Linked DNA regions of Homo sapiens. The protein of the gene in region 1 interacts with the protein of each later gene in a pairwise test. Each region holds a gene or a part of one and is shown on either strand. Other genes may lie near its edges.

Region 1 (7,030 bases):
GGGCATCCTCTGTATGTCTTGCTGGATGTGAGGGAGACACAGAGCACACGAGGGCTTCTGAAATCTGGCCTTGGGGGAATAAGAAGCCTTTTATGCTTCTGGAGTATAGATTTGTGCCTTTCCTGCTTCTTTCCTGCCAGAGTTCATCTGGCAGAGCTAAGCCTCACCCCAGGCTCTGGGGTCCGGGGGATACTGTCCTCCCAGGTCAGCCACCTCTCATTTGCATGGTGGACAGCTGCGGCTGACAGGCAAACAAAGATGTCTGCGGCCATGGCAGCTCCTAGAGAAACTCTTCTCTCCTTACTCTCAAATGCCTAAGATTAGGATCCACCACCTGCCACGGTAACCTACTTCCACGGCTTCTCACACCCCCTCACAAGGCAGTCATGATGATAGATGTGACTGCGTCGAATGGCTTCCAGAAATATGATCTTATTTGTACAACAGAGCCGTGCCCAAAGGAAGAATGCCAACCAGTGGGAAGCTCTGCTGGGGCTTTCTGAATTCCTAGACCCAATCACAAGCTGGTGTACTGTTGAACCATGAAAAAATTGAGTATAAACACCAGGAATGTCTGTGGCGCGTGGCGTCTACACTGGGTGACCCATGTCTACACTGTGAGTCCTAAGCGGGTGCCCCTCTCTGTCGCCCTCCCGCAGCCATCAAGTTCTCTGGAGACCTTCTTCGACTCCCTGGTGACACAAGCAAACATCCCCAACGTTTTCTCCATGCAGATGTGTGGAGCCGGCTTGCCCGTTGCTGGATCTGGGACCAACGGAGGTAGTCTTGTGGGTATCTTTTAGTCTTAAAGGGGCGAAAAATCACAGATGGATGGGCTGTTTTTTTCTGTTTTATTAAACACCTGAGCAGAAATATTAGGCATGTAGGTGTGCGTAGGTACTGTAAAACTTTCATCCTCCTTGTAGTAGATCTTTTTAGAAATGGCTAAAATTAGGCAATCCTTTATGTCATCCTGCCATCTGGAAGGATGATTCTCATCGCTTCTCCGAATTCCATTAAAACTTTTCTTTACCGCCCTTGGAAGGGCACTGCTTTCTGTGGGTGGGGGAGGGACAAGTGAGGAGCGGTGGGGGGCGTGGTGAGTGGACCTGACTGTGGGTAGGGGGCCAAAGGAGAGTTCATAAATTTGGCAGGGAAACAGGGGCCCTTGTAGATCCTTTCTCTCTCTCTCTCTCTCAACACACACAGGCACACACGCACCACAGCACAAGTGTTTGCTGCTGAAACAGAATCAAGGCCGTCAGCACTACGGAGGTGCTGGAGCCTGAGCTTCCCTCCAGGGGCCGGCACCCAGACGTCAAAAGTAGTAGGGGACAGGAAGAATGCACTAGAAGGGGGTGCTGCCAGTCCCTTTGCTGTCTGACTATGAGAGGCAGGATCTGCACCCCGGTCCTCAGCTACTTTCATTTGCTACCATTTCCAGGCAGAGGACAGCATAGGATTTATGAGGAAATGTTTTATGATTTTGCACAATGAAGCTTTGATCAGGGAAGTGCTTGATCTTCTGTTCTCTGACCTCCAAGGAACTAAATAATTGTCAGTCAGTGTGGTTAACTGTTTTATTGCATTTCTTTGAAGGAAAAATCTCAATATTGTAAAGCTAAACTTGTATGTACTTTCTTTGGATAAGAGAAACCTCCAAAGCATCTTGATTAGATGAGGGCCTAATACCATCTGACCTTTGCAGACGTGGACCCATAAAATTCCTTGTTTTATTTTATTTTATTTTATTTCATTTATTATTATTTTTTTTAGATGGAGTCTCGCTCTGTCGCCCAGGCTGGAGTGCAGTGACGCGATCTCAGCTCACTGCAGCCTCCGCCTCCCTGTTCAAGCGATTCTCCTGCCTCAGCCTCCTGAGAAGCTGGGACTACAGGTGCGCGCCACCTTGCCCGGCTAATTTTTGTATTTTTAGTAGAGATGGGGTTTCACCATGCTAGCCAGGCCGTTCTCGAACTCCTGACTTCATGATCCGCCCACCTCAGCCTCCCAAAGTGCTGGGATTACAAGCGTGAGCCACCGCGCCTGGCTCCTTGTTTATTTTTTAAGCATTGATATTTGTTTCATGACATTGTCACGAAGTAGAAGCCCTGATTGCAGTGAAGTTTCTCTTTACAAGTGCATGCTTCTCTGTGTAACCTGTTGATATGTCTGTGTATTTTTTCTCTTATACCTGTAAATATTTCCTGTCCCAGGTCTTGGGTGGAATTGAACCAAGTTTGTATAAAGGAGACATCTGGTATACCCCTATTAAGGAAGAGTGGTACTACCAGATAGAAATTCTGAAATTGGAAATTGGAGGCCAAAGCCTTAATCTGGACTGCAGAGAGGTATTTATGCTATGGTCTCTGTTGTGTCTTTCTGTGTATGTCTGGGTCCCTTAAATATGCCAGCTGGAACCCGTAGATGCCAATAGAAGGTACATTACCTCGTAAGATAAAGGCTCATTACATGAAAAGATGCAGGGCCTTGCTGTACAGTAAGTTGAAATCAATTAATTGTCCTCCCTCCCCACCCCAAATATTGCATCCTCCCAACCACTTATCTTCATAGGGCAAAATTACCATTAAATGGTGAGTGAAGAGGACTATCTGAGCTACACCTTTCACCATTCATTCATCTTGGATTGATGGTCCCTAAGCTCAGTTTAAGAGGTTGAAATAAACAGATTTTTAATCAGTGTAGGACAGAGAAGGACGAAAATTAAGCAAAATGAAACCGAAAAGATCATCAGCTTTTATCCTCCATTCACAGCTAGCCTGGCCCCCAGAGTACCCAATTCTCCCTAAAAAACGGTCATGCTGTATAGATGTGTGTGGCTTGGTAGTGCTAAAGTGGCCACATACAGAGCTCTGACACCAAACCTCAGGACCATGTTCATGCCTTCTCACTGAGTTCTGGCTTGTTCGTGACACATTATGACATTATGATTATGATGACTTGTGAGAGCCTCAGTCTTCTATAGCACTTTTAGAATGCTTTATAAAAACCATGGGGATGTCATTATATTCTAACCTGTTAGCACTTCTGTTCGTATTACCCATCACATCCCAACATCAATTCTCATATATGCAGGTACCTCTTGTCACGCGCGTCCATGTAAGGAGACCACAAAACAGGCTTTGTTTGAGCAACAAGGTTTTTATTTCACCTGGGTGCAGGTGGGCTGAGTCTGAAAAGAGAGTCAGTGAAGGGAGACAGGGGTGGGTCCACTTTATAAGATTTGGGTAGGTAGTGGAAAATTACAATCAAAGGGGGTTGTTCTCTGGCTGGCCAGGGTGGGGGTCACAAGGTGCTCAGTGGGAGAGCCTTTGAGCCAGGATGAGCCAGAAGGAATTTCACAAGGTAATGTCATCAGTTAAGGCAGGGACTGGCCATTTTCACTTCTTTTGTGGTGGAATGTCATCAGTTAAGGCAGGAACCGGCCATTTTCACTTCTTTTGTGATTCTTCACTTGCTTCAGGCCATCTGGACGTATAGGTGCAGGTCACAGTCACAGGGGATAAGATGGCAATGGCATAGCTTGGGCTCAGAGGCCTGACACCTCTGAGAAACTAAAGATTATAAAAATGATGGTCGCTTCTATTGCAAATCTGTGTTTATTGTCAAGAGGCACTTATTTGTCAATTAAGAACCCAGTGGTAGAATCGAATGTCCGAATGTAAAACAAAATACAAAACCTCTGTGTGTGTGTGTGTGTGAGTGTGTGTGTATGTGTGTGTGTGTGTATTAGAGAGGAAAAGCCTGTATTTGGAGGTGTGATTCTTAGATTCTAGGTTCTTTCCTGCCCACCCCATATGCACCCACCCCACAAAAGAACAAACAACAAATCCCAGGACATCTTAGCGCAACATTTCAGTTTGCATATTTTACATATTTACTTTTCTTACATATTAAAAAACTGAAAATTTTATGAACACGCTAAGTTAGATTTTAAATTAAGTTTGTTTTTACACTGAAAATAATTTAATATTTGTGAAGAATACTAATACATTGGTATATTTCATTTTCTTAAAATTCTGAACCCCTCTTCCCTTATTTCCTTTTGACCCGATTGGTGTATTGGTCATGTGACTCATGGATTTGCCTTAAGGCAGGAGGATCAGGTCACCCAGGACTCATTCCATCCCTGGGTAGACTTGCCTATGCAGCTGTGCCCGTAGTGGTTGGGGTGGCTCATCTGGTGTTGGCCACTGGTGTCCATTCTCCTCCCTCTGCCACATGAAGAACATTGCAGGTGAGGACAGGGCTGGCAGCGCCTGTGTGTGTCTCAGTCTATGATGCACTGTGGCCCTGGTTCTGTTCCCAGTGCAAATATGGGATGTCTGTTGAAAAATTGTCCATCCTTCTCTTCGTTAGTGAGGTCATAGAGAATTGATTTGTGTACAGTTTGTACAAATGGCTTTTAATATATTTCAGCCTCAAAAGACAAATAGGTCTTCCCTCTGCCCTGGGGCAGGAGTGCAGGTCCTCAATGAAGGAACTTGGGCACCTCTGAGTAAGGAAAGAGCTGTGCCTTGGGAGGGCTATTGATTTGCTAATTTGGGCCGTGTCCCCTCCCTTTCCTGGGTCCATTTCCTTGTCTCTGAAGTGAGCGTGTTGGGTTGGAAGACCCCTGGTTCCCCAGTTCTGAGAACATGAATGAACTACACAGTCCATGATGACTGGTGTGGCTGCCTGGATTTGTGTGTAACAGACAGATGGTGATGGCGGCTAGAGCCACGTGGGGCGGGGAGCGCCACTGTCACTCACGCACCTTTCCCTTTCTCTCCCGGTTCAAGTATAACGCAGACAAGGCCATCGTGGACAGTGGCACCACGCTGCTGCGCCTGCCCCAGAAGGTGTTTGATGCGGTGGTGGAAGCTGTGGCCCGCGCATCTCTGGTGAGTCCTCGGGACACTCACGGGTCCCCGAGTTGCTGAGTTACAGTCACCTGCTGAGGAGCAGCACTGCGTGTTCTGAGCATCTCTGAACTATTGCGCCATGTATTTCCAATTTTCATATTGTGTATTTGTATATTTTATATGTAATAGTATAGGTGTAATATGTAAATATATTTTATATGTATTTAAAATCTTTATATTTTGAAGGGTTTTGTTTCAACTATTACTTGTTAATTTCACAGTCCCTTTCTTTGATGTTAGCAAATAGTACCTTCATGAACCTCAGAGGACTTGGATCTGAATGTGCAATGCCCTCTAGTATTTCAAATAATAGTTCAGTTGGTATAGTATTTTTTTAATCTGCAAAAAACAATACTTGCTAATATAGCTATGTTAGAGTAAACAATAAATCGAGAATAAATTTATAGCCTTTGAAACAAAACAAACCAAAAATTTTACTCCTTTTTGGCTTTCATCCCTGCACTGGTATCTTAACTTCTGTTTGTATAAAAGAATACCATTTTTTCACAGAAGACAAAGAACAATCAGCCAATCTAATAATTATTTTATGGCCATGCTCTGAAATACAATTAAAATTATGATTGTGGACAATATGCCTTTTCGGGACCTGGCTGATGGTATTTCTGGTGTGACCCCAACTTTCCAGTCAGTTCAGGGCAATAAACATTGGATACAGGACAGCTTTGGGGATGAAATAGAATTAAATTTAGTGTAGTTTTTGCCACTTTTAGCTGGATGCCTGGCGAGGGGTTTTGTGCCCTCTGAGAGCCTCCGTCTTCTCAACTGAGGGGTGGTTGTGAGTTTTGGGTCAAATGCTTGGTGTTTAGTAGATGCTTGGAGCTTCCATGAAACATGCAACCACGGCGTTGCTGCTATTTGTTCAGATGCGAGAGGAACATGACTTTTGGCTGCCTGAGTGTTCTCATAGCATCTGGGCCTTCCTTGTGAGATCGTCAGAAAGTGTTTCCTGCACAAAGCCTGTACTGCGGCCCTGGCGTGGGGCTGATTGTCCCGCTACTCTGCTGTGATGGCTGAATTCAAAGAGTGGCCGATAGGAGCACGTATGGTGGGTGCCTTGTTAACAGCTCATAGCAGAAACGTGACAAGCGGGAGAGGGCTTTGGGTTGTCCTGAACTTCAAACACCTGTAACTGCTGCGGGAAGAGCGGCACGTGGATGAAACGGACACAGAGGGGGAATAGGCAGGAAAGGACGCGGGCTCTTTTCGAAGCAGCAGGTCTCAAGGCGGCCAGCCACTGGCGCAGCTGCAGCTGAAGCCACGGCAGAGTCTCCATCCTTCCCACTATCTGCTGAATCAGAGAAAGTGGCAGGCAACATTTTTAGTGCCTTAAATTTAGAACGCTTGCTCAAAATCAGACCCTACTTAAAATAAGGAGCGATACCCTCATTTCTTAAATAGTAAAAATGCCCTCAGCAGAATTAACGGGAGTATCTTCCAACTTCATATCCTGAATGGAAAAGTCTGTCCACCATCCCGAGGACGTGTTTGAAGCGCAGTGTGAAAATCCAGCACGTCGTGGACCGGCCAGACCCCTGTGCCGTGAGAGGCGGGGCGGCGGGGCCGTGGGGCGCTCGCACTCCCGAGCTCATCGTGGCATGCGCTGAGCCGAAAACCACGAGGTAGAGGGAATGAGATCACAACATTTGTTTGCGTTGTCTAAAATTATCCTCTGATTTCATTCGGTGCCTGCGTCAGGAGGGAGAAACATGGGAAGGTTGTTTGTCTTGGGCAGGGAAAGCATCACAAGGGCGCGTTGTGTGTCTGGCTTACCGTCTCTGGACCAAAGCTGTGTTTGTTTTTCTTATCTACCAGTTCCAGTAAGCCAAACCTCTTGGCGTGGGTTTCCTTCTGGTTAAGGGGAGGGCTGGCTTCAGAGAGTGAAAGACAATAAAAACGTGGAGCTCTGTCCCCTGGCATGGATTGTTCAGATGGGATTCTAGAAATTAAGGGTTTGGAGTTCTGTATTTAGAAATGAACCTGGAGCGGGGAGTGTTGTACAAGGTGCAGCCCATGCAGAGGCACCGAGACCTGGGCTCGTTCCGACCCTGCCGCAGTGCCCGCTTGGCTCAGGCCCAGCGCCTCTC
Region 2 (6,963 bases), on another chromosome or scaffold:
ACATACACCCCAAATGAAAACGATCCTCATTCTTTAGCCCCCAAGCTTTCCCCTCCCCATGTTTCCTGGAACGGATGCCACCATTCGCCCAGCGAAGCACTTCAGCAATGTGCAGGTCACGCTGACACCTCACTCCCTCATCCTCACCCAACGATTCCTTCAGCTCATTCGCCCTCCTGATTTTTTTCTAGAACATCTACTTCTCTCCCTCACCCCTGGCGCCACCATCCTTCAACGCACCCTGTTTTCTTTTCTGGACTAGTCTCCTCATATCTACCCTTGCTGACCTCCAATCCAGACTCATCTTTTTAAAGTGAAAATGTTATCTTGTCTAAAACCATCTAATGGCCTCCCATTGGCTGGTTCCAGATCCTCCCATTTTTTAGGATAAATTTCTGAATCCTTAATAAGAGTCTACAGAACCCTGGATGATGTCATCTGGCGCTATCTCTCCAGACATTTCTTGTGCCACTGTCTTCACCATCATCTCTTAATAGACTCCTAAAAAATTCAATAATGAAGAATAACTCAGGAGGACCTTCACATAGGAATATTGTGAAAAGCCTCAAAAACAAACACACAAAAAATCCTTACAGATGTTCTAAATCAAATGACTTGTTTCCAATTTAAAGCTGCTTCTCATTATTCATATTTATTGAAAGTACTTTTGAAATATCTTTTGTTACCATGAGGCTATAGTTTATCATATAATGACTCCAGTTGAAAAACTGCTTATTCTTCTCAGAGAATGAAGTCACTAAACTTCTGTAAGGTTCTAAAGGTCCTTCAGTGCATGGATCCCAGGATTTTCCAGGCCAGTAAAAAAAAATTAATGAGGCCTTGGCACAGGAGGGTCCAAATTTTTATTCTGCCAAATGGAGATGTTAAAACAAAACAAATTCCATGCACATAACATCTACCTCTGCCGTTATTTTTAAGAACACGTTTGCAACAATGAAAACTTGAAGTCCATACAATCAGAGTAAAGATTAACATTCTAAATTAATAATTTTAGTTTTGCATTCTTATTTTTCCAGTTTCATTGAAAACCTGTGAAAACAGCTTCCCAAAGTGACACCAGTGGCCAGACTAGACTTTGATAATCGCTGTTCTAGATAAGAACTATTATATCCATTGAGAGGTTGTTAATTCTTCTTCTGAAAATAGCTATCAAAATACTTTTGCTAGAATAAATAAAGCTATTGAGAAAGAAGAAAAAACAGCCTCCAACACCTGAAACTGCTCTGAGTCCCACAGCTATCTCTCAATATTATTACAAGCCGATCTGACACTCACAGCCAGGTAAGCTCTGTTTTCCTCCTGGACATCAACAATCCCACAGATACCTACGTCGGATAAGATTATTCTGAGACATGACACACCAAGACAAAGCAATGCCACTTGAAGATTTTCTCTAAGAACAGACAAAAACAAGGGCACCTGCAACGCACAAAACACCAAACATCCCCTTCTCGTGCTAAACAGAATGGCTGTTCCTTCTTTACTCAGTCAGAATTGCCCCACCTTCTAACAGCATTCTATCTACAGCAAAGCCCGGTTCCTCAGTCTTACCCCAAATCATGCAACCGAAGTTCAAATTCTGTAATGGGTTTTTTTCTATAACCTACCGTCCGTCGCTCATGGTGTGTGGTCTCCTTTGCCTCAAAGAACACTAAACCCAATTTGTTCAGCTTATGGTGTGTTCCTGGTGGTCTTTCAATGAAGGGCCCTGACAGTATCAAAGTATCAAAGTCTCTCCCAATTCCCATAAAACCAACTACCGTCAAGCAAATTAATTCCCTACCCACAATGGAGCAATTTTATTTTAAGGCCTTTAATCGTGTCCACATACATGTTCTGTGTATTTTCCTATTACAGGAAAAACTGTATATACTATTCTGGATTCTACTTTTATCTGCTGAACATTATATCAATTTTAATGGCTAAATCATATCCCACCATGATTTTAAAGAATTTCTCCTTACAGGTATAAAAGAAGACAATGCACATCTTGCTTCCACTTTCAATAACCTACCTAAACTATTCAAGACCATCACCATCTAGCCTCAGGCCAGATGCGCCAGGTTCCTACTTATCCGATTCTGTTGGCAAAGACAAACGCAGTCTGATTGCTTTATAAAGAAATGAATTATGAAAGAGTACTGGGCGTCAAGAGGCTCGGACGTTACGCATGTTCAGTAAACAACAGTGTAACCTCTGGCTAAATATTTTCTCACTCTAGGTCTACTTCCTCTTCTGTAAAATGAAAGAGTCACGCTCGTCCCTCACTGTCTCTTGCAGTTAGGAAGTCCGTAGCCCTGTGACTTGCTCGTGGGAAAGAGCCACGGGACAGGCGATCCCATGACTTGGGTGCAAAAGGCCACAGGGGGCCCTTTGGGGCCTGCTCTGGGCTGCTCGCACCGCCCAAGCTTGGGACCACTCAGCGTTTCCCACGGCCCTGCAGTATCCTGGGCTGAACTCCTGAACTTCTTCGGGAGAAAGCACCTGACCATCAGGCAGTCTGTCCTTGATTGAGTAATGCACACAGGTCCACCGGAACATTTTATTTAAACACTTCAAAATGCAAGGGCCTGGAACTGGTTATTCAAGTACACTCACTCAAATCTAAGAATGTGCGAATCACACCCAGGTATCCTGCAGAGACTAGGATTTCCTTTAAAGGAGTTCTAGTTGCAGGTAGCACCGAATCTACCGAGGACGGGGTTCGCCAGCCCGCTCTGCACCCACACCCCTGTGCACGAAACCACAGACCCCCGTAAAGAAGCTGCCCAGCACGAGGTGTTCCTTGTACCCGCTCGCGCCGCCACACCTGCGCCTCCATCCGCGCCCGCACCTGCACGCCCCTCTCTGCGCCTCGGCTCAAGCTCACTCACCGGCGGCGCGTGCTGCGCGACGGCACAGCTGACGGCGGCAGCCAGGAGGACTAAGGCGACGCAACTCCGGCCCGGCATCGCTCTAGCAGCCAACGCCACTCCCCGGACTCCAGCAGAGGCAAAGAAGAGCCGGCTGGGCCGGGGGCAGGCCACGCCCCCTCCGCCGCGTGACCCGCGACCTGGGACCGCACCATTCCAGGCAGTAGGGGGAACGCTCGGAGGAGGCGGGACTGGGAGGAGAGGACGGGGCTTTTCAGTGCCACGAAAAGGGTGGCGTAGAGAAAGAGAGAGAGCCTTCCAGGCTACCTGCAGAAGGAGAGTCGCGATCGCCTTTGGCGCGTGGCGTGATCCATCCCCCTCCCCCACCGCGGGCAATAGTCGGACCGAGCCGGAGCCCCGCCCCGTAGGTGGGGCCGGGAGCTTCACCCGTGGCGCCTCGATGGGGCGCCTCTAGCAGGCGGGTGCAGCCTGTCCCGCGTACCCAGGCGTCCTCGGTACCCACGAAACGGATCCAAAGAGTCTCAACACTAATGTAACATCCCACCCTGACCCATCTTTGCCCTCTGAGAAAAGCGGCCCGAAATGAGTTGAGTTATTCATCCCCACCGCGGAGTCAGGGACAAGGAGCAGTTGAGTGGCCGAGGAGTGAGAGAGAATCGAATCCACTCGGGTCCTCCAAGCTGTTGGTTACCCACTTGGGCTTTCACAGCAAAGCTGCCAAATCCCAGAATTGAGGCCTCGGTGAAAAGCGCGCTGAGACTTGGGTAGGAGGCCCGGTGGGACCCGCGAGCTTTCTCTCCCAGCCCGATGCAGCAGTTCATTAAGCGGCTGTGTTTCCTCCTAACTGGCGAAGGACTCAGGTGGGCGGAGCAGAGCTCAGCTTGGGAGGAGGCGGACGCGAGTAGCTCGGCAGGGGGACTCGCTTGGCTTTCGTGCCATCCGTGGACACAGTCGCGCGGGTAGGTGACCGGGTTGGATTTCAAAGTCCAGCAGGAAATCCTGCCCTCTGGGTTGCACTTCCTGGATGAGCCTCTGACGTCTCAAGCAGCATTGTTTTAATGCTTTGATGAAGCTCAGCACGCTGCCGAAATCTCGGCAGTATTTTTTCTTTTCTTTTTGCATGTGAGAGAAAGGACAACAAATTGCAGTTTTATCCATTTGTATTATTTCTTTAGAAAACTCAACACTCTTTTTGTTGGAGGTGGGGAAATGAGAAGGTGATGTTTTGTTTTGCTTTTTTTCCTATTTTTTTTTTTTAAAGGAGGAGAAGATGACAGTGTTCTCCCTAAGGATGAAGTTTGACTTTTGAAACATATCACATGCTTAAAGCACATTTGAGCTCCTGCATGAACAGTAAGCTAGCAGATGGTAGAAATATTCTTTATTAATTCAAAAAATATTTACTGCGGACCTACAATGTGCCAAGCATGTCTCCTGACACTGGGGATAAGCAGTGAACAACAACAAAAAGACAAACTTCTTCCACCCTGAGGCGTATGTTCTCGGTGAGAAATGGGCAATAAACATAATACCTAAGAAAATTATACGGGATGTTAGTGACAAATGCAGTGGAGGAAAAGGGAGGCCAGGGGCATCAAGTGTGGAGATCAGAAGTGGTAGAGTTACAATTTTAAATAAGAGGGACAGATAGACATGATTAAGGAGGTGAAGTTTGAGCAGACAGTTGAGGGAGACCAGGAAGCTAGTTTTGTGTGTGCCCAAGTAAGAGTATTCTAGGCAGAGACAGCAGCTGTTAAAAGGCTTTAAATGGAGAATGTGCCTGGCATGTTCAATTACAGCAGACGTGTGTGGGTCTGGCACAGAAAGAACAAGGGGAAAAGAAGAAAGAAGTATTAATAGACAAAGTATTTAGTTAAGGAGAGCAGGGCAAATTCTGTAAGGCATTCAGAGCCATTTCACTCCGGAAAAAAAATGTGTAATATTGAATATACGTGTTAAATGTTGAATCTATGGAATTACCTTGGAGCTTAAAATGAGTGTGCGAAGAAGAGGATTCCCATCTTTTAGTTGTTATTACTAAATCAAATAGCTACTTGATTGGAAGATCATTCATCTTCAGTACTCTTGAGAGCGATTTAAACATGTCACCAAGCATATTTTTTTCCCTACTGGAGGATGTTAATTGGTGATTAGGTAGTCTAGCAAAATCAGATTCTTTATGGAAAAAATTTGTCAATTGACATACTATTCTTAGGCACCACTTTCGCAGAACTATGCGTCTAACTTTCAAAGGTCTATTATATATTATTAATACTCTTTTCAGATAAAATATAAATCTAGTTCCCTAAAATTAAACCATTTCATGCATGTCTTTTTTTTCTTACACATATATCTTTATTTTGCCTACACCATTCTTTAATACTAGAAATGTACAGAAAGTCAAGGCAAGGTGTGTGTAGGAGACTTTGCAGTGGTTTTTGGCATACTGATCTGTTCATAGAAAATGGTATTTAAATGTGCAAATGCATGATTATGTCCACGGAAAGGGTGGTTCATACTGCACAAAAGCATCAAGTTTAAGACTTGGATAACCTGTTTCGTGTGCAAGAGTCGGGATATGTAATCAGATTGTTTATGGAATAGCTGAAGTTCTTGGCAAGCTGTGGACTTCCTCATCTCCTACCTAACATTCCTAGGTTCCTGAGGTGGAGCCTTGATTTAAAAGGGTTGCAACTTAGCCACCCCACCCTAAATGAAACCTATCATGTATAACATCACATTACCTGGAACAGGTTTGACTTGATTTAGTAAAACCGAATATACAAAAACGTGTACTAAAAGGTCAAGAGATAGAGAAATAATGTTTCAGTTTGAGAAATAAACATTTTTTTAACTTTAAATATTGACTTTTTTATGAATAAGGAAGCTTTTTATTTTACAGGTCTTTGTGGGAAGAAACAAATCACAAAAGCAATTAAGAGAGCTCAAACAATGGGTAAGAAAGAGCACCTCAACAACTGTATTGAGCTAGCTGAAATTTTGCTCATTATGCTTTGTCAAGAACTTTAATTATCTCTTTACAGGGTTTATGCCAGTTACATACAAGGATCCTGCATATTTCAGGGACCCTAAAGTTTATAACATCAGATATCCGGAATAAATTCCATCACATTACCACCAGTAAACTTATTTTATAGTAAGTGGTTGTATGACGCCAATACTGACTCAAACCAACCTTTGGATAGAAAAGTGTTTCAGGAGTGAGGTAAAGAATGACACTTCCCCTTCATACCAATCAGTGTTCATTAAGCAGATCGCTTATTTAAAATGTTAACACTCATCACATTTTACATATGTTGAATGAAAGTGGTTCTGGGTGATAGTCATTTATATCTGGTCCACAAATAGCTCATACAATGTAGTACACCATTCAACTGAATGGAGTTAAAACTGCTCAGAATGGTTTTCTAACTAGCAAATGTAAGTATGCCTGGTTAAGAGATCTTCCCTTTGTAGGAATGTTACACTGGGATGCATAGTGATGCTGTCACAGCAGGACAAAACATTCCTAGACAACTCTATCCTCAAACCAGTAGTGTCTTTTACATAAAAAGATGATTTACACCTAATAGACAGTGAATGTGATAGACATGTATGTATATATGTATCAGTTCTGAGTTCCACCAGCCTATCCCAAACACACTGGATTACCAGGCTTGTACTGTACTCAAAATTAAGGATTTGCTAAATTTCGTGCAAAGGACTCTAAACTAGGGGAGAGATTATTGTTTGTGTTGCGTTATAGTTGTGTAATAATTAAGGCTGCCAGATTTAGCAAGTACAAATGTAGGACAAATTTAAATTTTAGATCATGTTTTGCAAAGGTACTGCGTGAGATCCAGCATTTTATCTGGCAACACTAGCTGTAATGTACTTCTAAAAAATTATCACCTAAGGATAATTTTAATGACTCAGATAAATTTCATATAAATTTCTTTCCACATTGTGAAAATAAGGCTATTCTAGCTTTTCTAATACTTTTTTTTTTTTTTTAATAGAGATGGGTCTCACTGTGTTGCCCAGGCTGGTCTCTAACTCCTGGCCTCAA
Region 3 (7,030 bases), on another chromosome or scaffold:
CCCTCTCAAGACAACCCTACTCAAAACCCTGATCATTAAGGTCAGGCTGTTTGCATTTCCAGCCCTGCCCCCTGCCCCAAAGGGTAGTGCTTAGTCCAATTCAGCTGACGGTTCATCTGTGCTCATGACATCAGACTGCCACCCTCTATGCCACAAGCCCACCTGAATTAGCCCACTGAGTGTTAGTGCTGTGGGCTGGCCCCTTCCTGAACCTCCTGATCCTGTCTCCACAATGTCTAAAATGTGGTTGGAAAGACAGCATAGACTAGATGTCCCATTCTGGCTCATAACCAAGCCATGGGGTGGTAGGGTTGGGGGTTCTCATCAGTCGTAGTAGACTCCTTACCTGTAGCCTGGTTAAGTCCTGTCATACGTGGTCCAATGGGTAAAGCTCCTTAGAACTCCAATGGTAACCAAACTGCCTACATCCATTTGCATCTTCTGCAATCCAGGGATTTAAAAGTAATGGCTTCTGGCAAGTCATCTCACTACACTGCTGGTCATCTCTGTAAACTCGCTCTGTAAACGGCAGCTGATAACTAGCTCTGTTCCTTGAGGGAACCAACAGGTCCCTAAGGGGCTCTGCCTCACTCCAGTGAGGTTCAGGAGCCCAAATGGAGTAAGTTCCAGTTAAGCTCTTCATGTTCTGTGCTGATATGCCAGGCACCAGGAGTTGTCTTTAACATTGTACCTGCACCAGCCAGGCTGGCCAGTGTAATATTTTTCAATTAGCAAATCTTCCAATAATAGCGTTTTAACAATGAAGATCTAAAGAAAAAACTTGTTCTTAATTTTTGTCCAAGGAGGGGAAAAAAAAAAAGAAGACTTCTAATAATCATATCATCATAAATTCTAATGTGGGGAACATTTGGCTGTGTTACAAAATTTGCAGCTAATAGTTAAAATAAAGATTTAAGTAAATGCCTTTATCAATAAAGTAAATGATAGGGCATATTCTTCTCAGCCAGAGTCAGAAATGGCAGCACATAGCCATGTGCTGAATTGTCACACAGTGCAAGTCTTTAAAATTCCTTCTGGATTTGAAGGTATTAACAAGTCCCTATCAACAGTCTCTAAAGGCTTTTGATGTCATTTTAGCTATTGAACGAAAATATGTGAACTATTACTTTGTTGATTTTGTTCTTAAACTAAACTGCATTATCATCTGAGAGTGTGTTCTTAAAGTATTGTTAAAAGTACTTTGAAAACTTGTAAATCCCTGTAATTTATGTTACTCCTGCCTCTGCTGTTTCATTCTTTCCTTCTGGTTTTAATTTGAATGTAGTCCTGTCTGGGTGTGTACCTGTAAAATTGTGTTTTTCCAAGTACAATTTACAGTTCTGACCTTAGGTTTACAGTGTTCCCAACCATCTAGGAGCTTCCTCCTATACCACGAAGTGGGCTTTGGGTCACCCAGCTCTTTCATATTAGAACTGTCTAATCAAGGTTACTTGAAACAGATCTAATTTTGACATTTCTTAGTTTATCATGGAGGCCTAGGGAGTAAATTAAGAGGGCTTCCCTGCAAGCCCATTCGTTGCATTGCCCTATTTCTTTAAATGTACACAGTTGTAAACTTAAGACTGCTTCAAGACAACAGTCTCATTTATCTAAACAGTTCTCCTTTTAGACTCAGTGGCACTGATGGAAACAAAGATAAGAAGTATAGATTGGAGGAAAGGTCTTTTGGAGCCTATAACTTTTTTTGAAACTGTTCCCATTTTCCTTAGAATTACCTTTTCTTTCTTGGACCTGCCTGCATACAGAATAGATCTGTCTGCATTGAGTGTATTCAGTGAGCTAAGCTAAGGGAAGACTGCAGTGGGCAGGGCCTTACTTTCTTGTGAGTGAACTCTTTGCAGGTTTTAAGGAATATGACTACTCTGCTTTAAGGGGGTGTGGGGAGCACTTTGTTAAAGCAATGTGCATTCTGAATCCATTTCATAGGCGTCCTTACTCCGTGGCAGCTACACCTTTAATCGTGGATTATAATAACTTTTAAATGAGTGCAAAACTTTCAGGATCTTTTCCTTAAGTTGGGAAATGAGATTTTTTTTTTCTGCTCTTTTCAAGTATCACTTAAATTAAGCTCTGGTACGGAGTCAGGAGTCTTTTTCTTTACACTCCTTCAGCATGTTTTCCATGGTACTAGCCGACACTGTGCAGGTGGGTGAGGGACAGGCTGGGGCGTTTCGGCAGCTGACCTGGGCTGCTCTTCCATTTCAGGTGATCGTGCAGTCCGGCCGCCACCCCACAGTGCTGCAGAAGCTCTGCCAGTTGCCCTTCCAGTATTTCAGTGACCCACGGCTGATCAAAGTACTGTTCCCTTCACTTATCGCTGCTTGTTACAACAACCATCAGAACAAGATCATTCTGGAGCAAGAGATGAGCTGTGTTTTACTGGCCACTTTCATTCAGGTACCTTCTACATTATACGTAATTGTCTAGCTTTGTGTGTAAACTAATGCGACAGAAATGTAAAAGTAAGCCAGCTGTTTATTTTTGCCTTCCATACTACCTTTTAAAATCTTCACATATTTATGTGCTCCAAAATTGATTTCTAAAATATCAGCATAGTTTCTGAAATATTACTGGAACTGCGATTGGGTGTTGTATAATTTCTACTTGGAGGATTTCAAAGAAAGGATACTTTTCTAGTTAATGAAATGGTAACCCGTACTCAGGAAATGTTTTTAAAAGACTGCCAGACTTCTTTAAGGCTTTAACTATTGTATTTATCTTGCTTTTATTCTAACTATAGGAAATAGATAATTACTGAAGAAAGATGAATTAAAATTAGTTTATTTGTACATTTTTAAATAAATATGATTTTCTTATATGTATAAAATAAAAACCTGTTATATTGATTTTTTTAATGTAAAACAACTTTTAAGTACAGCCTTATATTTTAAATTCTGTAGGGCTAGAATCAGAATTAGTGCCATAGCAAAGTACTATTTCCACATCTAAATTAACTTAGTCAGCTGAAAAACCAAGTTGACTATGCTTTAACATTTGCTACTAACTAACTCATCCTGTGAATTTCTTTTTGTCATTATAGAGCATTATTTGCTGAAAATCTCCCATTTCTTTCACATGTTCCACCATAAGATGTGTTTTTGCTCCATGACACACATGTGATGAGTAGACAGTACTTTCTGGTCTTCAGAATAATGAAACAGAAAGCAGAGTTCTGTATTAGTATTCTTCCATATTCTGGTGAATATACATCTATCTCTGTCAAAAGGATATGATAGTACCCAGCTGGCTGGGAACTAGAGGATAGCTAAGGAGTTCCCCGAGCCCTCTTCATCTTAGACAACATTTCAAAGTTTATGTTTTCCAAACTATCCTGTATTAGATAATTAATAAACGCAACTAGATCAATTATGTTAGAAAAGTTTTGTTTTCGGCTTAATTGTTCTGTTTGAATCTACGTTTTATTTTCTGGAAAAAAAGTTAAATTAGATATTTAGATCTACAAATATGGATTTCAAAAACTGTCTTATAGTTAATATCTTAAGAAAATTTTACAGTATATAACATCATATCAACACTTAGGATTCTTCATATATTTTTAGAGCCTTAGGATTAAATTAAATAGAAAATACATTATGGACCAGGTGTGGTGGCTCACATCTGTAATCCCAGCACTTTGGGAGGCCGGGGTGAGCAGATCACTTGAGGTCAGGAGTTTGCGACCAGCCTGGCCAACATAGTAAAACGCCGTCTCTGTGGGCACCTGTAATCCCAGCTACTCGGGAGGCTGAGGCAGGAGAGTAGCTTGAACCTGGGAGGCAGAGGTTGCAGTGAGCCAAGATCATGCCACTGAACTTCAAGCTGAGTGACAGAGCGAGACTCCATCAAAAAAAAAAAAAAAGAAAATACAAATACATTATGGATAATTTTAAGAGTGTGCTCTTTCTAAATTCAGATTATTCATTCTTTTATTGAACAGGTAATTTTTGAGTGTGTAAGGTGTGCTGGGCACTGCAAATACAGCAACAAATAAAACAGATAAAAATTCCTGCCTTCACAGATCTTTCATTAAAGTGGAGAAGAGTCAAGCAAAAGACAAAAAAAAAATTAGTAAAACAAATAGTATGTCAGATACTATGCTAAGTGCTATGGCAATAAGTGCTGTGGAGAAAAGTAAGGCAGGAAAAGGAGCTAGGGACTTCAGGGAGATGATGTGCAGGTTTTTATGATGTGGGCAGAGAGGCTTCAACAAAGAGACAGTGATGTTTGAGCGAAACCAATTTCACATCTGTATCAGCTTAGTTCCTTATGTTTTCAACTGCATAGACAATGACTTATAATGATACAAATGATATCAGGATCTAAAGATTATATATATTTCTTGTGTTTATCTGATATTGATCACAAAGTACTAAGTCTACCTTTGTCTTACAAAAAAAATCTGTAACATAAATTTTGTAAATGCTAAAAAAAATTTCTTATATTGTTTATTTCAGATAGCATATTAGACTTGTAGAGTTAAATCAAGTGTTTTTCTATAAATAATTGTGCTCAAGAGAATGAATATAGATAGGATTTTAGTTTATAATGTGGTTCCTCAAGGTCTCTTATGTGTTACATTATAACTGAGTTACTAGAAAATGATATTAAAATAGCAGCTGGTTGTCTTAGGTTTCTGAAGATTTACATATTTTATATTACATTTTTCATTTTCCATCTACATGCAAAATTACCAGACTTTAAGATTTAGCTGCAGAATACATAGAGCTTTCATATTTGTACTTTTTAAAAAAATGATCAACACCTGTTGATATTTTAAGATAGTAAATTTGGCTTAAATTTTAGTTTTATTAGATAAAAAGTTGTAATTTCCAAAGTAGGCAGCAAGTTGTCCCCTGGTGATAATTTAGCAAGATGTAAGTCATTACTATTTATGAGAACCTGCACTACGTAACATCAGTTTCTTCAGCGTTTATATTTGGGCCCCAAAATATTCATACAAAAGTGGTTGCATGAATCAGAAGTATATTTAAAGCCACCCTTAGTGAAATTCTCTGTTCATAGCATTGATAGAAAAACACTTTTCTCTCCTCATACAGGATTTGGCACAGACTCCAGGTCAAGCGGAAAACCAGCCTTACCAACCCAAAGGTATGTCTCTATTGAAATTAAATTTCATGTGTTTGTTAGCCAAATGGACATCTTTCTTATCCTTTCCTCTGGAACTGCTACATTATATGTAAAATTTTATACATAACCTAAAAATATTTGAGATTCAGATACCAAGTATATTTCAGTAAGTAAAGAAATCGATTTTGTCATGAAGCATGAATGCATCCAAATATGTATAGAAATCTGTGGGAGTAAAAGAAAAGCACAAATATCTTTGTATAATTTATAATCATCTCATGCAAGATATATTAAATGGTAAATAATTACTAAAGAGCCGCTTTGTAATACAGGAGCCAGATCATTAATACTGGCCCACATTTCTCACATAAATGCTGAAATCACATAGGTTTGGTTCCTTATCCATGTTCAGAATAAAGTTATCAGTAATAGTAGCCCACAGTTTCCCCCCAAGTTCAAGTAGTTGAACTTTTGTTTTGAAAATAATTGTTTTACATGGAGAAAAAGTCATCTAATTGGCAAAGTCCAGGGCAAAAGATTTACAAGTTGTTTTTTTTTCCTATAGCATTCCTGCTGGGGTGTTTGCTGTGATCAGAGTTAGAGATGTAGAATTTTTACCACATTTTTACTTTTTTAAATATTCTGCTACCCAGACTGTAATTGAGAAGTACAAGTTGCTCTTTGGGTGTTATGACAGCATCTCTGATGAATGAGAACCTAATCCAGATCTTCTTCAATTCTTCCATTAGTTTGATAGTCTTTAAAGTGGCCATTTAGAGGTACACTCCCAGCAGGACCCTTTAGGGCACCCACCAAGAAACCCTTACTTGGTGGGGGTGGGGGTGTTACCTTGGACTCTTTCACACACACACACACACACACACACACACAAAGTCCTCTACAGTGGACAGGTGTTGAAAAGTGCACAGAAGAAAATATAACTAAAGCTATTACAATATCATGAAAAGAAAAAAAAAAGACGTTTTATTGACTCAGGCACCCAGAAAAGTTAAACAGAAAGCTATGCAACTTTTCAGAAATTCAAGTCCACATCCTTGTCGGTACCATTTGTCTGAGCAAGAATTAGTCTGCAAGTTCAGTTCTGCCCTGACCCAGTCACAGCCCTTTTTTTGTTTTGTTTTGTTTTAACTACTGGAGGATACTTGGGGAGAAATCAGCAAAATGTGTTACTGTTCTTACAAAACAATTTCATTTTGAATAAATTAAAATGCTTAGAAAAATCTAATGTATTTATTTTCAATTGTACAGCAGTTTTGTTTTGTTTTGTTTGCCACTAAGAAGTATAAGCATTTTTTTCTTACTCTTTCTCCTGATCATAAAGATGAGTCACAATTTGTTACATTGTCTGGAAGACACAGTCCCAGAAGCTGCCTCTCTCTGCTTGGTGGACTGAGGCCTGTGGAAGTCTCAACCTTCTTTCTTTTCCAAGGGACCATCTTCCCTGATTTTCATGCTTTCCCCCAGTTACAGTAGGCTTAACCCACAGAACAGCAAAGGGGGAATTGGTCTCTCCTTTGCTCAGAAAGGGTCATCACTATGTTAATGACAGCTCATAATATGTTGCTTGATTTTTTTTTTAATGATGATGCCTAAGTTGCCAGTTTGCACCTTGGGTATTTGTTCCCCTTTTGCCTAGATTAAGTCCTCATAAAATGTCTCAAGATATTTTGAGTTCATTGTCCAGGTAAACCTTTAAATATAAAAGCAGCTCTTGGTAATACCACATTCCTATTGCCCAGGAAGAATTTTGGTTTTCAAATACCTACTGCCTGTCTAGCTGCAATTGTTTACTTTACCTATGTCACTGGCCAGTAAAGCTCCTATCATTCATTCCTACTGCTTTGTTAGATAGGCTGTGCTATATTTGAATAATTTTAAAGATATACTTAAAACTACATTC
Region 4 (5,939 bases), on another chromosome or scaffold:
GTTGATACCAATCCAGAGGACTCCCCCTCCTTTTGGCTTGCCTCCTTTCCCGTTCCTATGGAAACCAGCCTTTCTCCTCCTCCCCGGTCCCACCCACCCCACCCAGAGGCCACCCGGGAACGGAACAGGATGCTGGGGTTCCCCTCCCTGGGGCTGGGCTCATGGCTGTCCCACCATCCTGCAGCATTACAGCAAGGACAAGGGCGCTATCTGCACCAAGCTGGTGAGACCAAAGCGGAAACACGGGACCAAGTCGGCCGAGGAGGAGCTGGCCAGGGGTAGGGGACGCCCAGGAGGGCAGACCCCCTTCCCTACCCACGTTAGCCCAGTCCGGGAGGAAGGGCCCTGGGGCCCCGCACCTCTGAGGCCAGATCACCCAAGCCTGTCTCCATGCCCAGCTATGGGATAGAAGACCTGGGCTGCCTCGGGGGTGCCCACAGACACAGATCAGTCCTTTATTCAATAGGTCCCCAGCTTCGCCACTCATCTGTCACCATCATCCACCATCTGAGCCAGAAACCTGGCCCCGAACCTCCACCCACCCCATCCTCCAGCATTCCCTCCTTGGCCAGGTTCCCAAGACCTGGTGAATCTTCTCCCCTCCCCTCCCCACAGCCCAGCCTCAGGCCCTCCCATCAGACCGCCTCCTTCCCAGAGGGCGAGTCCCCCTTCCAGCCCAGGCCTTGAGTGCAGCCTCAAGGTTATCTTTCTATCATGAAACCATGCCTCCAGGGAGAGAGGCCCAGCAGCTCCACCACCTTCCAGAACCTGCCTGCATGGCCTGAGCCACCTTTCCAGCCTCATCTGCAAAGCCCTTCCTCCACACATCCACCCCCTCCCAGGTCAACTGTGATCATCGTTTTCTTCATGCCTCTGAGCCATTGTATATTCTGTTCCCTTCACCTGAAATGCTTTTCCAGCCCCTAAGTAGTGAAATCCTCAATATTTAAGGTCAAAAGCAAATGCCTCCTCTGACCCCATGTCTGTCTCCTTGAAAGTATCTCTCTGCTGGGGAAGTCTGTACCCATCAGGGATGGCATCCAGGTGGAGACTAGCATCACCCTGGCCAATGATCTCTTAAGACCGTGGCATTTGGAGGGGGCACTTTCTGGAGGGAGAAGAGAACGTCTGCAGAACCGACCAGAGGGCAGTGGAGGGGACAACACAGGAGTGCTTGGGAGAAGGGTCAGGGAGGCTAGAGCCCTGGAATATTCTGGAACCTTTATGGGTCTCCATGTTGTGTTTTTTTGCTCTGTGTGTGTTTCTGGGGTGGTCAGAGGTAAAGAACTGTGTAGGGAAGAGCCCAGAGGGTATTTGGAGGGACAAGAGAGCCAAAGAGAAAAGGGCAGCTCTTATCTCTGAGAACTGAAGTGTTTCCTGGCACTACCCCTTGGGCCTGACTGGGAGTTCCTGGAGGGCAAGTGTGGGGTCTGAGGGTCTCAGCCAGGCAGGCCCCCAGCTTTGACTATTCACACCACTATCCCTCCTGTAAGCCCCTTTTTGTTCAGGTCAACCTGAGATAGTTCTGTTGCTTGCAACAACAATAATTGGTACCAGGAGTGGGGTGTCTCTGATATGTCCTAGGGGCATTGCCAGGCCCAGCAGCCACTCAAATGTGTATCCACAGCTGCAGCACTGTGAGAGACATCACCTAGTCTCTCACCAAGTAGAACCCCCAATGGGAGGATTTAGGGGGCCCATTACCCCTCTGACTGGGTCTTCACTCCACAGCGGGCTGGTTACTGAACCTGCAGCATTTGACATTGGGAGCACAGATCGGAGAGGGAGAGTTTGGAGGTGAGTGGCGGACTGGGTTGGGGGTGCTGAAGGAAGATGGGAGGTGCGTATTGAGGCTTTGGAGTCACAGAGCTGAATTCAAACCCATACTTAACCACCTACTAGTTGTGCAGCTGAAGACGTGCAAATCCTCTGAGCCTCAGTTTCCCCCTCTGGAACAGGGGGTAATGGCAGCTGTCATGAGGAGTAAGTGAACTCAAGCAGGCGCTCAGTCAACGTTAGTGACTTCTTCACACTGCCAGGGTCTTGTATGGTCAGTCCCACTGTTTGGAATGTTTGAAACACCATTCCCTGAAATTATTATTCTGGAAGGCTCTGGGGTTTAGATCAGGGGTCGGCAGACTCTCTGTAAAAGGCCAGATTGTAAATATTTCCTGCTTTGTGGGCCAGGTAGCTGCTGTCACCACTACTGAATCCTGCCCTTGTGGAGTGAAAGCGACCACAGACAATATGTAAACATATGGGCGTGGCCATGAAAACTATGACCCAGAAATTTGAATTTTGTGTAATGCTCACATGTCCTGAAACAGCACTCATCTTTTGATTTGTTTTTACAACCATTTAAACATGCAAAAACCAGCCAGGCACGGTGGCTCATGCCTGGAATCCCAGCACTTTGGTAGGTCGGGGCAGGAGGATCCCTTGAGCTCAGGAGTTCAGGTGCAGCCTGGACAACGTAGCGAGACCCCCATCTGTACAAAAAAAAAGCCAGGCACAGTGGAGCATGCCTGTAGTCCCAGCTACTCAGGAGGCCGGGATGGGAGGATCCCTTGAACCCAGGAATTTGAACCTGCAGTGAGCTGTGATCACGCCACTGCACTCTACCTGGGTGAGAGAGTGAGACCCTGTATCAATATTTTAAAAATAAAAATGTTGGCCGGGCACAGTGGCTCATGCCTGTAATCCCAGCACTTTGGGAGGCTGAGGCGGGCGGATCACGAGGTCATGAGATCGAGACCATCCTGGCTAACATGGTGAAACCCCATCTCTACTAAAAAAAAAAAAAAAAAAAATTAGCCGGGCGTGGTGGTGGGCGCCTGTAGTCCCAGCTACTTGGGAGGCTGAGGCAGGAGAATGGCGTGACCTGGGAGGCAGAGCTTGCAGTGAGCAGAGATGGCGCCACTGCACTCCAGCCTGGGCGACAGAGCAAGACTCCGTCTCAAATAAATAATTAATTAATTAAAAATAAAAATGCAAAAAACATTTTGAGCTGAAGGGTCTTGCAAAAAGAGGTGATAGGTAGATTTGGCCCCGAGGGGGTGGGGGTTCACAGACCCCTGGCTTAGATGGTTCTCTCTTTGTTTTTGTTTTTTGTGGGGTTTTTTTTGAGATGGAGTTTCGCTCTGTCACCCAGGCTGGAGTGCAATGGCACAATCTTGGCTCACTGCAACCTCTGCCTCCCGGGTTCAAGTGATTCTCCTGCCTCAGCCTCCCGAGTAGCTGGGATTACAGGCATGTGCCACCACACCTGGCTAGTTTTGTATTTTCATTAGAGACAGGGTTTCTCCATGTTAGTCGGGCTGGTCTTGAACTCCTGACCTCAGGTGATCCGCCTGCCTCAGCCTCCCAAAGTGCTGGGATTACAGGCGTGAGCCACCGCGCCAGAGCCAGATGGTTCTCTGATCTTGGGTCTGGAGCTTGCAAGGGCGGCAGGGGTGAGGAGCATGGGGTCTGTGTTTCAAGGTCTGGGGACCCGCAGCTGTGTGAATGTTACATGGGCACCGGTGTGAGCGGGCCTGTCCGTCTGTCTCTCTGTCCCTGTTTGTTGGGGGTCCTGATCTCACCCCGTTCCCCACCCCCACCCCCCAGCTGTCCTGCAGGGTGAGTACCTGGGGCAAAAGGTGGCCGTGAAGAATATCAAGTGTGATGTGACAGCCCAGGCCTTCCTGGACGAGACGGCCGTCATGACGTGAGTCCCAGGGTGGGGCTGGGGACCGTGGGACGGGGGGGGTCCCAGCCCTGCCCTCACGCCCACCCCACCGCCCCCAGGAAGATGCAACACGAGAACCTGGTGCGTCTCCTGGGCGTGATCCTGCACCAGGGGCTGTACATTGTCATGGAGCACGTGAGCAAGGTGGGGCGGGGCCCAGGCGGGGAGGGGGCCCACGCAGCGGAGCAGCCCCAACATCCCGCGGCCATCTCCCACCCCCAACAGGGCAACCTGGTGAACTTTCTGCGGACCCGGGGTCGAGCCCTCGTGAACACCGCTCAGCTCCTGCAGTTTTCTCTGTAAGTGGGACTCTCAGGGTGCTGCGGCACTGGGGTCGTCGGGGCGCAGATTCCAAGATCCATCAAGGGGAAACTGAGGCACGGGGCAGGGAGGCTTTGTGAGCTTGTGGCCCCAGGCACCCCGAGCTTTCTGAGCCCTGAATGTGGGCATCCTGGCACCTGAGCCCCCACTGCCCCCTACTACCCCCAGGCACGTGGCCGAGGGCATGGAGTACCTGGAGAGCAAGAAGCTTGTGCACCGCGACCTGGCCGCCCGCAACATCCTGGTCTCAGAGGACCTGGTGGCCAAGGTCAGCGACTTTGGCCTGGCCAAAGCCGAGCGGAAGGGGCTAGACTCAAGCCGGCTGCCCGTCAAGTGGACGGCGCCCGAGGCTCTCAAACACGGGGTGAGCCCTGCCTTCACATACCCCTGGGGCTTTGGGGTCCCCCCAGCTCTGCTGTATGACCCTGGGTATGTCCCTTGGCCTCTCTGAAACTCCAAGGGCAATGGCTATGCCTCCCCAGGAAGCTCTTGGCCCATAATTGTTCCTCGTAGCCCCCCTCTGGGCCTCAGTTTCTCCAGCTCTGAAAAAGGCGTGGGCTCAGGACTGAAGGGAAGAATAACCAGGCTTCCTTCATGCACTAAGGCTGAGCTAGACTCAACTGCGGGCGGCGTTGGGGGAGGACTCAATTAGGAGAAGACCAGAGAGTGAGGGTCAACCCAGGAGGGCTTCCTGGAGGAAGCAGGGGCTGGAGCAGAAAACCTGAGGGGTCCCTCCTCACCCCCGTCTCGGGCCCCACAGAAGTTCACCAGCAAGTCGGATGTCTGGAGTTTTGGGGTGCTGCTCTGGGAGGTCTTCTCATATGGACGGGCTCCGTACCCTAAAATGGTGAGCGGGGGTCCCAGGGAGGCACTGGGTTCCGGGCAGGTCCAGAGGCTGTGGCCCTGACCCCTGCCCACGCCTGCTGTCCGCAGTCACTGAAAGAGGTGTCGGAGGCCGTGGAGAAGGGGTACCGCATGGAACCCCCCGAGGGCTGTCCAGGCCCCGTGCACGTCCTCATGAGCAGCTGCTGGGAGGCAGAGCCCGCCCGCCGGCCACCCTTCCGCAAACTGGCCGAGAAGCTGGCCCGGGAGCTACGCAGTGCAGGTGCCCCAGCCTCCGTCTCAGGGCAGGACGCCGACGGCTCCACCTCGCCCCGAAGCCAGGAGCCCTGACCCCACCCGGTGGGGCCCTTGGCCCCAGAGGACCGAGAGAGTGGAGAGTGCGGCGTGGGGGCACTGACCAGGCCCAAGGAGGGTCCAGGCGGGCAAGTCATCCTCCTGGTGCCCACAGCAGGGGCTGGCCCACGTAGGGGGCTCTGGGCGGCCCGTGGACACCCCAGACCTGCGAAGGATGATCGCCCGATAAAGACGGATTCTAAGGACTCTAGGCGCCTGTGTGTCTCTGTGTCCCCGTGCCCTCTTCCCCGGGGGCCACCTTTGGTGATCTGCTCTCGGACACCCCCAGGCGCCAGGCATCCTGGGTCCTCCCTTAGAGGTCCACCCCCCCTAGATGCCCTGTGTGCCCCAGCCCCAGTGGTCACCTTCCTACTCTGTGGAACCCACTGCAGCCCACATGATGGGATCAATTAATTGGGACCCCACTGATCCTTGGCCGAGTCTTGGGCACCCACCGGCCCCAAGCCCCTGCCTCCTGTGGCCACATGCCTGCACACGGGGGCCTCCCCATCTTGGCCCATGGAGGATCTGCCCAGCTGGCACCTGCCTGCTGGCCACTGTGGGGACACCGTTCCCTGGGGGATTCTGGGCAGGGGACCCACTTGCCATTACCCACGGGTTCCCCACTGCAGTCCCCCAGGGCATGTGGTATTCAGTGGTGGGCACCCTTTCCCAACCCATGGGGTCCCAGGCTTAAAGGATCTTGGGAGGCTGC

Evidence for each region.
Region 2: the proteins of BACE2 (region 1) and ASAH1 interact in binary tests that used the Homo sapiens proteins (3 or more experiments, as listed by UniProt).
Region 3: the proteins of BACE2 (region 1) and SCAPER interact in binary tests that used the Homo sapiens proteins (3 or more experiments, as listed by UniProt).
Region 4: the proteins of BACE2 (region 1) and MATK interact in binary tests that used the Homo sapiens proteins (3 or more experiments, as listed by UniProt).

The regions. Positions count from the first base shown.
Region 1 is NC_000021.9:41,241,160-41,248,189, forward strand, and holds part of BACE2 (beta-secretase 2 isoform A preproprotein), read left to right. Parts: intron 1-659; coding exon 660-788; intron 789-2,216; coding exon 2,217-2,351; intron 2,352-4,802; coding exon 4,803-4,904; intron 4,905-7,030. UniProt on the Homo sapiens protein: Responsible for the proteolytic processing of the amyloid precursor protein (APP).
Region 2 is NC_000008.11:18,081,087-18,088,049, forward strand, and holds the start of ASAH1 (acid ceramidase isoform a preproprotein), read right to left. Parts: upstream 3,022-6,963; 5' UTR 2,973-3,021; coding exon 2,895-2,972; exon of another isoform or gene 2,831-2,894; intron 2,111-2,830; exon of another isoform or gene 2,036-2,110; intron 1-2,035. UniProt on the Homo sapiens protein: Lysosomal ceramidase that hydrolyzes sphingolipid ceramides into sphingosine and free fatty acids at acidic pH.
Region 3 is NC_000015.10:76,349,337-76,356,366, reverse strand, and holds part of SCAPER (S phase cyclin A-associated protein in the endoplasmic reticulum), read left to right. Parts: intron 1-2,226; coding exon 2,227-2,418; intron 2,419-5,078; coding exon 5,079-5,130; intron 5,131-7,030. UniProt on the Homo sapiens protein: CCNA2/CDK2 regulatory protein that transiently maintains CCNA2 in the cytoplasm.
Region 4 is NC_000019.10:3,777,465-3,783,403, reverse strand, and holds the end of MATK (megakaryocyte-associated tyrosine-protein kinase), read left to right. Parts: intron 1-184; coding exon 185-278; intron 279-1,731; coding exon 1,732-1,797; intron 1,798-3,606; coding exon 3,607-3,706; intron 3,707-3,786; coding exon 3,787-3,871; intron 3,872-3,952; coding exon 3,953-4,026; intron 4,027-4,216; coding exon 4,217-4,412; intron 4,413-4,808; coding exon 4,809-4,895; intron 4,896-4,981; coding exon 4,982-5,221; 3' UTR 5,222-5,431; downstream 5,432-5,939.